Linked DNA regions of Homo sapiens. The protein of the gene in region 1 purifies or fractionates together with the protein of each later gene. This does not show direct contact. Each region holds a gene or a part of one and is shown in the gene's direction. Other genes may lie near its edges. The genes, in order: KHK, LYZ and GLB1.

What was found.
Region 2: the proteins of KHK (region 1) and LYZ purify together in Homo sapiens (affinity purification with mass spectrometry; one large-scale study listed by BioGRID and IntAct). This does not show direct contact.
Region 3: the proteins of KHK (region 1) and GLB1 purify together in Homo sapiens (affinity purification with mass spectrometry; 2 studies listed by BioGRID and IntAct, with this or other methods). This does not show direct contact.

The regions. Positions count from the first base shown.
Region 1 is NC_000002.12:27,089,762-27,093,410, forward strand, and holds part of KHK (ketohexokinase), read left to right. Parts: intron 1-2,570; coding exon 2,571-2,687; intron 2,688-3,649. UniProt on the Homo sapiens protein: Catalyzes the phosphorylation of the ketose sugar fructose to fructose-1-phosphate.
Region 2 is NC_000012.12:69,346,970-69,351,212, forward strand, and holds the start of LYZ (lysozyme C precursor), read left to right. Parts: upstream 1-1,411; 5' UTR 1,412-1,439; coding exon 1,440-1,575; intron 1,576-3,138; coding exon 3,139-3,303; intron 3,304-4,243. UniProt on the Homo sapiens protein: Lysozymes have primarily a bacteriolytic function; those in tissues and body fluids are associated with the monocyte-macrophage system and enhance the activity of immunoagents.
Region 3 is NC_000003.12:32,996,092-32,999,740, reverse strand, and holds the end of GLB1 (beta-galactosidase isoform a preproprotein), read left to right. Parts: intron 1-2,396; coding exon 2,397-2,696; 3' UTR 2,697-3,124; downstream 3,125-3,649.

The DNA.
Region 1 (3,649 bases):
CCCCACCTGTCCTAGGGTCTCTGTGCTTGACAGGCAGTTGGGGACTCTTGGGAGCCGCCACCTGGAGCTCAGCCAGACCCCTGGGACGTGTCCTTTTTTTTATTTTTTGAGTTGGAGTTTTGCTCTTGTTGCCCAGGCTGGAGTGCAATGGTGCGATCTTGGCTCACTGCAACCTCCGCCTCCAGAGTTCAAGCAATTCTCCTGCCTCAGCATCCCGAGTAGCTGGGATTACAGGCATGTGCCACCACACCCAACTAATTTTGTACTTTCAGTAGAGATGGGGTTTCTCCATGTTGGTCAGGATGGTCTCGAACTCCCGACGTCAGGCGATCCGCCTGCCTCAGCCTCCCAAAGTGCTGGGATTACAGGCGTGAGCCACCGCGCCCAGCCTTTAGCTGAGCATTTCTGCACAGGAAATATCAGTGTGACTTTGAAGGGTTTCCCCAGAGTAAAATTCTATATCCTTTCTTAGAAACCTCAATGCTTGGGCCTAACAACTTTTAGTTTTAAAATACGGAGTAATTAGCAATGGCTTTGGGGTCAGGAAATTGGGTTCCCACATCAGCTTTGTCCTTAACTATTGATCAAGTCAGATCCCTCGAGATTCCTCCTTTTTTTTCATATCTTTTCGTAAAAATTTCTGTAAAGCTGTAAAGCTCAGCTTGAAAATCTTTTTTTTCTTTTTTCTTTCTTTTTTTTTTTTTTTTTTTGGAGACAAAGTCTTACTCTGTCACCCAGGCTGGAGTGCAGTGGCATGATCTTGGCTCACTGCAACCTCTGCCTCCCGGGTTCAAAAGATTCTCCTGCCTCAGCCTCCCGAGTAGCAGGGATTACAGGCACCTGCCACCACACCCGGCTCATTTTTGTATTTTTAGTAGAGACAGGGTTTCAACATCTTGGCCAGGCTGGTCTTGAACTCCTGACCTCGTGATCCACCCGCCTCAGCCTCCCAAAGTGCTGAGATTATGGGCGTGAGCCACTGCGCCCGGCCAGCTTGAAAATCTTTGACCAGCTGGGTGCAGTGGCTCATACCTATAATCCCAGCACTTTGGGAGGCCAAGGCAGGAGGATCGCTTGAGCCGAGGAGTTCGGGACCAGCCTGGGCAACATAAGAAGATGCCATCTCTACGAAAAAATTTTTTAAATTAGCGGGGCATGGTGATGCACACCTATAATCCCAGCTACTTGGGAGACTAAGGTGGGAGGATCAGTTGAGCTGGGGAAGTTGAGGCTGCAGTGAACCATGATCATGCCATTGCACTCCAGCCTGGGTGACAGAGTGACTCTGTCTCAAAAAAACAAAAAAATTACTATCCTTTGTCATTGTTGTTATTGTTGTTTTTGAGACAGGATCTCACTCTGCCACCCAGGCTGGAGTGCAGTATCATGGCTCACCCCAGCCTAAACCTCCCGGGCTCATACGCTCCCCCAACTTCAGCCTCCTGAGTAGCTGGGACCACGGGTATGCACCACCATACCCAGCTAATTTTTAATTTTTTTTTTTTTTTTAGAGACAAGAGCTCCCTTTGGTTGCCCAGGCTGGTCTCGAACTTCTGGGCTCAAGTGATCCTCCTGCTTTGGCCTCCCAAAGTGCTGGGATTATAGGCATAAGCCACTGTGCCTGTCCTACTATCATTTTTTTTCTAATGACATCGTGCTCCCCTTTTCCCAAAACTGAAGTTTCGCGTACAAATATGCTTTGGCCTAAAAATTCTGGTTCGGTTTTTTCTCTTAATTCGTGGTTCTTTGGTACTGTTCCTTTTATTGTAAACTGCCACAATTATTATTATTATTGGAACTGGCACAATAGAAATAACACCACCATTCTTACCTCAAAGGTAATAACATTCATTAATGATTTCTCATTTGGGCTCCAGTAACACTGTGAGGGGATCAGTGCGTTGACCCTCTATGTGGAAGTTATCATTTTTGCTGCTGATGACAATGAAGCCCTTCACGTGTGTCTTGTTAGTTTCCTTTTGGTTGGTTTTTAGTAAAGATGGAGAAGTGCTCCCTGCTGCCACTTCTTAAACGACCAACGTCCAGGTTTGCTGTCCTGTCTTACTCGTTTGATTTTATAGCTCTGCAGTTTCTATTGAAGTAGACACTCCTAACACAGGGGTAGGTGTAAATGTGATACCTTTGGGAAGAGGCACTTAGTCCCCGAGGTCCTTGGAGTTGCTCCAGCTCTCAAGGAGGAGGCCAAAGGTGCAGCGTCTGGAGCAGCTCTGACTGGGGTGAAAGGTGAGGAGGAGATGACCTGGAGTTAGTGGGTCTCTCGAATAGTGATGGACCCAAGTGAGTGGTTTCCTGTTGCCCTAGGAACAGATGGAAATATTGAAAGGAACTGCTGTCAGCTTGAATTTAGCCTGGGCTGGGGAGGTAGACACCGCTCTCAGCCAAGCTCCTTCCCTTGGCCGGCCTCGGCTGCCCCGGGTACAAAGTGAGACGTCGGCCTAGATGCTTTCTGAGAGGAGTCCCCAGCTGTTACATTCTGTAGGCCCCTATACAGGAGACTGTGCTTGGGATCAGCCTGCTGGGGCTGCAGGGACCCTCCCTGTGCTTTGCAGGTGTTTGTCCCAGAGATGGCAGCGCGGAGGCAACGCGTCCAACTCCTGCACCGTTCTCTCCCTGCTCGGAGCCCCCTGTGCCTTCATGGGCTCAATGGCTCCTGGCCATGTTGCTGAGTAAGTCCAGGAGGGAGAGCCCACTGGGGAAGGCCTGCCTGCATCATTGTGGGAGAAGAAGGATGTATCCACCCTGGGTGGATGGGGGATTAGAAATGGGTTGTGTCCAGCAGAAACGCGGGGAGGGGGCATGGCGGAGCACCAGACGCCCAGCCCTGCCTTGGCGTGGCCTCTCTGCGGTTCGGGGGCTGATGCTGCCCCTGTGAAGCTTTCCTTGCCACAGCTTGTTTCCTGGACACTTCTGGAGCCTGCTTCAGCCTCTTCCTTTCTCCTTCCTTGCTTCCTGCAGACTCTGCGGTGGATGTGCCTTTGCCTTATCTTAAGTCCCTTATCCTGGCCATGCTTGAGGCAGAAGGCAGTTAGGGACACGTGGTACCCATCCTCCCCCAGGTCCAGGCCCACAGTTTCTGTCCCAGTTGAGAGGCAGGGCTGGTGCTCATGTCCCTGTTGTTCACTGAAGCAGTGAGAGTACCCTGTTCAAGGACACCCTGAAGCCACATGCTAAAGCTGGGCTCAGAACCCACACCTCCCAGTTCCCCGGCTGTCAGGGCTATAGCCCTAAATGGCTCATGCACGCCCTCCATGTTGGCTGCTGCAGGGACCTCAGAGCCCTTTGACCCCTGGCGCTGCCGACTCAGCAAGCACTTATCGGGAGGTGAGGCCCACACTTTGCACACTGTGGGCACGGGGGCAGGCTGCCAGGTTGCTGGCCTGTGAAGGGCAGCCCTTTGAACCCTGGTTTGAAGGGGGCTGCTGGCAGAGTCCAACCACCTGAGCTACAGCCAAACTCCCTGCCTTGATGAACTGGCAGGAAGAGAATAGAGGGAGAGAATCTGCCCTGTGAGATGGGACAGGACGGCTCAGAACCAAGGGCTGGTGACTCATTAAACCTCTTTAATAGCTCCTTTCCTCTGAGCTAGAGGCAGGACTGTGGCTCTGGCTTAGGATGGTCGACTCTCCTT
Region 2 (4,243 bases), on another chromosome or scaffold:
AGTTTCACCATGTTGGCCAGGCTGGTCTTGAACGCCTGACCTCAGGTGATCCACCCACCTCAGCCTCCCAAAGTGCTGGGATTACAGGCATGAGCCACTGCACCTGGCCCTATTTATTATTGAAGAATCAAAATTAGGCCTAGCCTGAAAAATGAGATTATTCTTGATTTTTGAACAGGGTCCTTGAACTGTCATTTAAAACCAAATCTGGTAATCTTTAGAGGCCACTGATGAAAAATAAGGGTAACTACAAAGTGATGACACTTTGTGTGGCTCAGAATCTGTCCTCTTAGGCAGATACAGAAGTGCAGTTCTTTTTGAGTTCTGGTAGCATTGTTTTAAAAGCTGTGCACAGCCTCCTGAGATTGCTATTTTCAAAGGTAGCATTTAGTTGGATATATGTTTGGGTAGGTTTTATTTTTAAAATGCTGTTGCTTTCTAATGACCCCTTATGTTCTAATATGGAAAGGGGAGGCAAAGTATTGTGAAAAGTAGTTGGTAAAGTAGGCCGGATGTGGTGGCTCACACCTGTAATCCCAGCACTTTGGAAGGCCGAGGCGGGCGGATCACGAGGTCAAGAGATCCAGACCATCCTGGCCACATGGTGAAACCCTGTCTCTACTAAAAATACAAAAATTAGCTGGGCATGGTGGTACATGCCTGTAGTCCCAGCTACCTGGGAGGCTGAGGCAGGAGAATTGCTTGAACCCGGGAGGCAGAGGTTGCAATGAACTGAGATTGCGCCACTGCACTCCAGCCTGGTGACAGAGTAAGACTCCATCTCAAAAAAAAAAAAAAAAAGGTAGTTGGTAAAGTTGTTCACATGAACCTTATTTATAATAGTAAAACACTGATTTATAATAATAAAAAATTTGCTATAGTAACAAAAAGAGTCTAGAGTAAGAAACTAGCTGAGCAACGTGGTGTCACACTATACACCCATTAAGACAACAGGCACATGTGTCATGTCCATTTTGTGGAAAAGATATGTAAAATAATTTTAAGTAAAAAAGATAAATATAAAAAAGTGAATGCATACAAAACAATTTCACAAAATTGAATGTTACTCAAAAATCACAGCTCATTTTAAGCTGCACAAAATAGTCATTTTTTTCTTTATAATTGCTCAAATTCATAATCAAACAGAAGAAAGTTCCTGTCTTGGAAGTAGTGCTATGCCCCAATTCTTCCAGAGCCAGTACTTTAAACAATTCCATTTCATTATTTTCCTGTAGACTAATTCTTAGGACATCAGCATATCTCTCTTCAAGCATTAAAAAAATCTCTTTAGAGTCAGTGGATCAATAGACAGTTCCTGTTTTCCACACAACTGAAAGGGTGGAGCCCCCAAACCACAAGGGGAAGAAGGAAGTTAAAAGATGTTAAATACTGGGGCCAGCTCACCCTGGTCAGCCTAGCACTCTGACCTAGCAGTCAACATGAAGGCTCTCATTGTTCTGGGGCTTGTCCTCCTTTCTGTTACGGTCCAGGGCAAGGTCTTTGAAAGGTGTGAGTTGGCCAGAACTCTGAAAAGATTGGGAATGGATGGCTACAGGGGAATCAGCCTAGCAAACTGTAAGTCTACTCTCCATAATTCCAGAGAATTAGCTACGTATGGAACAGACACTAGGAGAGAAGGAAGAAGAAGAAGGGGCTTTGAGTGAATAGATGTTTTATTTCTTTGTGGGTTTGTATACTTACAATGGCTAAAAACATCAGTTTGGTTCTTTATAACCAGAGATACCCGATAAAGGAATACGGGCATGGCAGGGGAAAATTCCATTCTAAGTAAAACAGGACCTGTTGTACTGTTCTAGTGCTAGGAAGTTTGCTGGGTGCCTGAGATTCAATGGCACATGTAAGCTGACTGAAAGATACATTTGAGGACCTGGCAGAGCTCTCTCAAGTCCTTGGTATGTGACTCCAGTTATTTCCCATTTTGAACTTGGGCTCTGAGAGCCTAGAGTGATGCAGTATTTTTCTTGTCTTCAAGTCCCCTGCCGTGATGTGGGATTTTTATTTTTATTTTTATTTTATTTTATTTTATTTTTAAAGACAGTCTCACTGTGTGGCCCAGGCTGGAGTGCAGTGGCATGATCTCAGCTCACTGCAACCTCTGCCTTCTGGGCTCAAGTGATTCTCGTGCTTCAGCCTTCTGAGTAGCTGTGACTACAGGTGTGTACCACCACACCCAGCTAATTTTTTGTATTTTCAGTACAGATGGGGTTTCACCATGTTGGCCAAGCTGGTCTTGAACTCCTGGCCTCAAATGATCTGCCCACCTCAGCCTCCCAAAGTGGTAGGATTACAGGTGTGAACCACTGCACCCAGCCGACATGGGATTTTTAACAGTGATGTTTTTAAAGAATATATTGAATTCCCTACACAAGAGCAGTAGGAACCTAGTTCCCTTCAGTCACTCTTTGTATAGGATCCCAGAAACTCAGCATGAAATGTTTTATTATTTTTATCTACTCTACTTGATTAACTATCTTTCATTTTCTCCCACACAATTCAAGATGTGCCATGAGGAAAAGTTATTTTATAGTTTAGTACATAGTTGTCGATGTAATAATCTCTGTAGTTTTCAGATTGAATTCAGACATTTCCCCTCAATAGCTATTTTTGAATGAATGAGTGAAGGGATGAAATCACGGAATAGTCTTGTTTTCAAGATTCTAACTTGATATCCAAATTCACCTTTAGATATTATAAGAAAATTTCTATCAGAAAATCCTTATGTTTTTCTGATTAAAAAAAGCATTTTTCCATCAGCCTATGTATCTGCTATGAATTTACAAAATCTACTCAACAGCTCTGTTGATTTTTCTGTTCTTGGCTGAATGTTGCCTGAGGGATGGGAGCACGGGAAGGGTAAAAGCAATGGAACAAACATGTATTTTAATATTTTAAAAGTATGTTATATTGTTCGTTGGTGTTACAAGATGATTTGCATTACAAAAGGATTCTCTTACAAGTCCCTTATCTTAACACTAAAGTGCTAAGATATTTTATAAGTAAATCTTTATACTTATAAAACAAATCAGTAAAATAGAAGTAGCTAAGTAGAACTGATTTTGCTATAGAGTATAAGTCACTTAGTGTTGCTGTTTATTACTAAAAATAAGTTCTTTTCAGGGATGTGTTTGGCCAAATGGGAGAGTGGTTACAACACACGAGCTACAAACTACAATGCTGGAGACAGAAGCACTGATTATGGGATATTTCAGATCAATAGCCGCTACTGGTGTAATGATGGCAAAACCCCAGGAGCAGTTAATGCCTGTCATTTATCCTGCAGTGGTAAGACAAGCTAATATTTGACCAATCTGGTTATACTTACAAGAATTGAGACTCAATACAAATGAAAAAGCCTTGAAAGGTTCATGAGGGACCTAGAAAAACTACATCTCAACTTCCAGAAAGTCATTATTATTTTCCTCATAATTCCCTGAGTAAGAAATTAAAGAAGTGGTATCATAAAAGGTTGATGTTTTTTAATATACAGAAGTTTCTGGAATGACCTATTAATTTACTGTCAATGGCCTTACTGATGCTTTGTCCAGAACAATGCCATTGCTCCTGCTTACTTTGGGGAGGTTTTGGGATAATTTAGTTGTATGGTCCTTTTTCAATTGTTTTACTTTTTTTTTTATGAAATGTTCTAAATGTATAGAAAATTAGAGACATTAGTATAATAAACAGCCATATGCCCATTATGCACTTTAAAAGTTGTTAACATTTTGCCATAGTTGCTTCTTCTATGCCTTTTTTTTTTTTTTTTTTTTTTTTTTTTTTTTGCTGAGAGTTTTTTGTTTGGTTTTGTTTTGTTTTATTTTGAGACAGGGTCTCCCTGTCCCCAGGCTGTAGTGCAGTGGCACCATCACAGCTCACTGCAGCCTCAAGTGATCATCCCACCACAGCCTCCCAAGTAGCTGGGACTACAGGTGTGCACCACCATGCCTGGCAAATTTTTGAAATTTTTAGTACAGGCAAATTCTGTGTTGCCCAGGCTGGTCTTGAACTCCTGAGTTCAAGCAATCTTCCCACCTCAGCCTCCTTAAGTGCTGGAATTACAGGCGTTAGCCACTGTACCTGGCTACTGCTGAGAGACTTTTAAGTGAATTAGGAACATGATGATATTCCATTTCTAAATTCTTTAGTTTACATCTTCAAAAAATACAGTTCCTGTAGAATTATTATTGTAAATAACAAATTAACTTAAGGATTTATTTATTTGGAG
Region 3 (3,649 bases), on another chromosome or scaffold:
AGGTGGAGGCGGAGGCTGCAGCGAGCCAGGATTGCACCACTGCACGATAACCTCCCCAGAGCAATGGCTGCTGCTTCTCTCCACCCTCCCAATCTCAAGCAAGGGCCTCTTCTGACCAACGCTAACCCAGAACCATCCAGGGAAGGGGATCCAGGGAAAACAATTCCCAGCTTACCTACCAGGTGCACAGTCCACCCGGCATGTGAGGGCCCATCTCTTGGATGCTTATGAAATGGAACTTGAGGTTTGAGAAAGGACCAAACCTCCACTTTGTTCACCTGCGATTTGGTCAAGAGTTGGCTTGGCCTGTGTCCTGACCATAGCATGAAGCCTGTGTGGTGCGTGCCATTCCTTGGCTGCTGCTCGTAATGCCCTCCCACTTCTCTGTCTTCCCCCTTGACCGCAAAAGTAAAGTGCTACTGTTCTCTAATACTGCAAAAACAAGGCACCGGCAGATTTTAAGCTGATAAAAACCTGCTAAAGCTGTCATTGTATATACCTTTTAGGATGGAATGAGATAACATATCCCAGGGTAAAAACAAGAGTGAAATAGTTCTGAGAACTGTGAAACTGTCGTCCTCTTTCTAAATGACTTAATCCAACAGACAGGTGGTTTTTAATCACGGACCCCCTTCTTTTGTAGGCATTGGAACACCAACATCTTTTCACTTTAATCATGTAAGGAGTGCTACCGCTTACAGGCCACACACTGTTCCTTCATCATCATTGTCCCCAATGACTGGTATGAAAAATTGAGTTGAGACCTGCCCAAGGTCAGACAGCTAGTAAGTGGCAGGACACAGATACGAACTCAGGTAGGAAATTCAGAAGGATCTAAAGTAAAGGGGACACTTGGAGGCTGAAAAATACCCAAACGTAAGAAGACTGAGGAGCCCTGGGGTGAGCAGCAGAGTTGTGTTGCAGAACGTGATGAGGATTAGGGCTCAGCAGGTGTCAGCCATGGCTGGGCCTCCTCCAGGCTGTCTCCTAGGATATCTGGGCCATTGTAGGTCACAGTTTCTTTCCTGCCTCCCTCCCTTCTTCCATTCCTCTTTCCTCTTCCTTCTCCCTTTATGTTTTCCTTTCTTCTCCCAGATTTTCTCTTTCTTTTGCGTGTATGTGATCTCCCCATCTTCACTTTCTTTCTTTGTAATAGAATGGTCCATCTATTCAGCCAGCTGTTGATCCTAGCCTTTGAGCTTTGAGCAAATCTTTTTTTTTTTTTTTTGAGACGGAGTCTTGCTCTGTCACTGCGCAAGGCTAGAGTGCAGTGGCGCAATCTCAGCTCACTGCAACCTCTGCCTCCCTGGGTTCAAGTGATTCTCTTGCCTCAGCCTCCTGAGTAACTGGGATTACAGGCATGTGCCACCACACCTGGCTAATTTTTGTATTTTTAGTAGAGACGGGGTTTCACCATGTTGGCCAGGCTGGTCTCGAACTCCTGACCTCAGGTGATCTGCCTGCCTTGGCCTCCCAAAGTTCTGGGATTACAGGCATGAGCCACTGCACTCAGCCCCTTTGAGCAAATTTTAGCACATACAGAGAGGCTGTGTAGACAGACCTAAACATGGTCCCTGTTTTTTAGGAGTTTATCCTCCACTTTCAGTTTTGTTATGGGAAGCAGCTTCCCCTACTCACAGAAATTGTTTATGCAACCTATAGCATCACCTCTGCTCCTGAACCAAACATGGAGTCCACACCCTAACTCTGAGGGTGCCTGTAAGAGTCCTTAGAACATAGCAGTAATATAGACACCCAACTGGATAAGCCTCTTCCTCTCCCTCACCCCAAACCCCCCTATCCCTCTTGAGGGGTTGTTTTGGGGACCACTCCTGGTACCTGTCTGACCTCAGGATGCAGGCCCTGGAGTCCTCTGTTCCCTGTGTTCACCAGGTGTACAGCAGATAGTGAGGTCAAGACCTGCCTCTGGGAAAGGAGAACAAAGAAGGAAAAGATCTATTTAAGGAAGCAGTTCAGCAGTTGTCTTCTGTGTACAGAAAAGTCAGGGAGAGGCTGGTCTGTGGGTACAGGCAGCACCTGGGAACCAGGATGAAATTCAGAAATTTCCACACTGTTCTCTGGTACCAACATCTGTGGCCACTGAAGCCCGTCAGAGGGACCAAACCTGTATTTTCCTGAAGCAGGAGTGGGTCTTTGGGGCAAGTTTTTGTTGCCCCAAAGAAGGTGGATGGGGGCATCCACCTTCTTCCCACCTTGGCCAGTTATCCCAGCAAGAAGCTAAAACCAAGGCTGGCATGGGCCTGGCTGTCAGCCTCGCCTTTCTGGGGGCATTTCTTTCCTCCATTGCTGCTGGCCTGCCCTACATCAGGGCCCCCACCTTCCTCAGGGCTTTCGGTGCATCTGGGGTTGATGGTTCTCTGTCTCTCTCTCTCCAGGGCCAGGTCTGGATTAATGGCTTTAACCTTGGCCGCTATTGGCCAGCCCGGGGCCCTCAGTTGACCTTGTTTGTGCCCCAGCACATCCTGATGACCTCGGCCCCAAACACCATCACCGTGCTGGAACTGGAGTGGGCACCCTGCAGCAGTGATGATCCAGAACTATGTGCTGTGACGTTCGTGGACAGGCCAGTTATTGGCTCATCTGTGACCTACGATCATCCCTCCAAACCTGTTGAAAAAAGACTCATGCCCCCACCCCCGCAAAAAAACAAAGATTCATGGCTGGACCATGTATGATGATGAAAGCCTGTGTCTTTGAGGGATTCTACCCTGAACATACCTCACAGATCCTCCCTGTCATGCCACATTTCACTGATTGGAATGTGGAAATGGAAAAGGAATTTAGGATGTGCATTTTCACCTGAGGTTTCCCTGCATCCCTGCAGTGCCAAAGCCCCACCTTCAGGGACCACCTGGAATGTGTGAGGGGCTGACAGCACAGTAACGTGCATACATATCTGCAGGGCTGGAATGGAAGCTTTAAAGGTGGTAGTGATTTTTATTTTGGAAGAATCATGTTACCTTTTTGTTAAATAAAATTTGTACTCAAATGATGATGTCACTGTTTTTAATGTGCAGGTATTGAATTATATGGTCTGACTTAAATCATAACTAGACTTGAGTGGGCTGAATAAACCACTTCACTAACTTGAAGTTCAAAAGGATGGAAAATAGTCTTGGTTTGATCTGTGGACTGCTGCTTTTCTGATCGTTATTTGACTTGCTTTTGGACTAGATAACCTATAAATACAGCTCAAAACAATTATGCAAACAATCTAAATGATTAACAGTTGCACAGTGTACATAGTATGGTATATCTATATAGAAGCATAGTATTTTAGCCACTAAAATGGTGAGAGATCTATACTTATATGCAAATTTTTTGATACATGAAAAAACAGATTACCTTAAATTGGATCCCGTTTTGTGTGTTTCAACATAAGAACTTCACATATTCACACAGTACAGGCCTATACACATGTCAGTAGTCAGGCATGCACGTGTGTGTGTGCTGTGTATGTGCACAGATAGGAAAGGATGTGGTGTTTCTGATATTCCTGTCCTGACATGGAGCAGTAGCTCTCATTTGTTGAGGACTTGTTCTACACCATGCACAGTTCTGAGTTTATGTTTAACTCACTTGCCCCTCACAAGAACACTGAGGAATATACTGTCATCCTGCCGGTTTA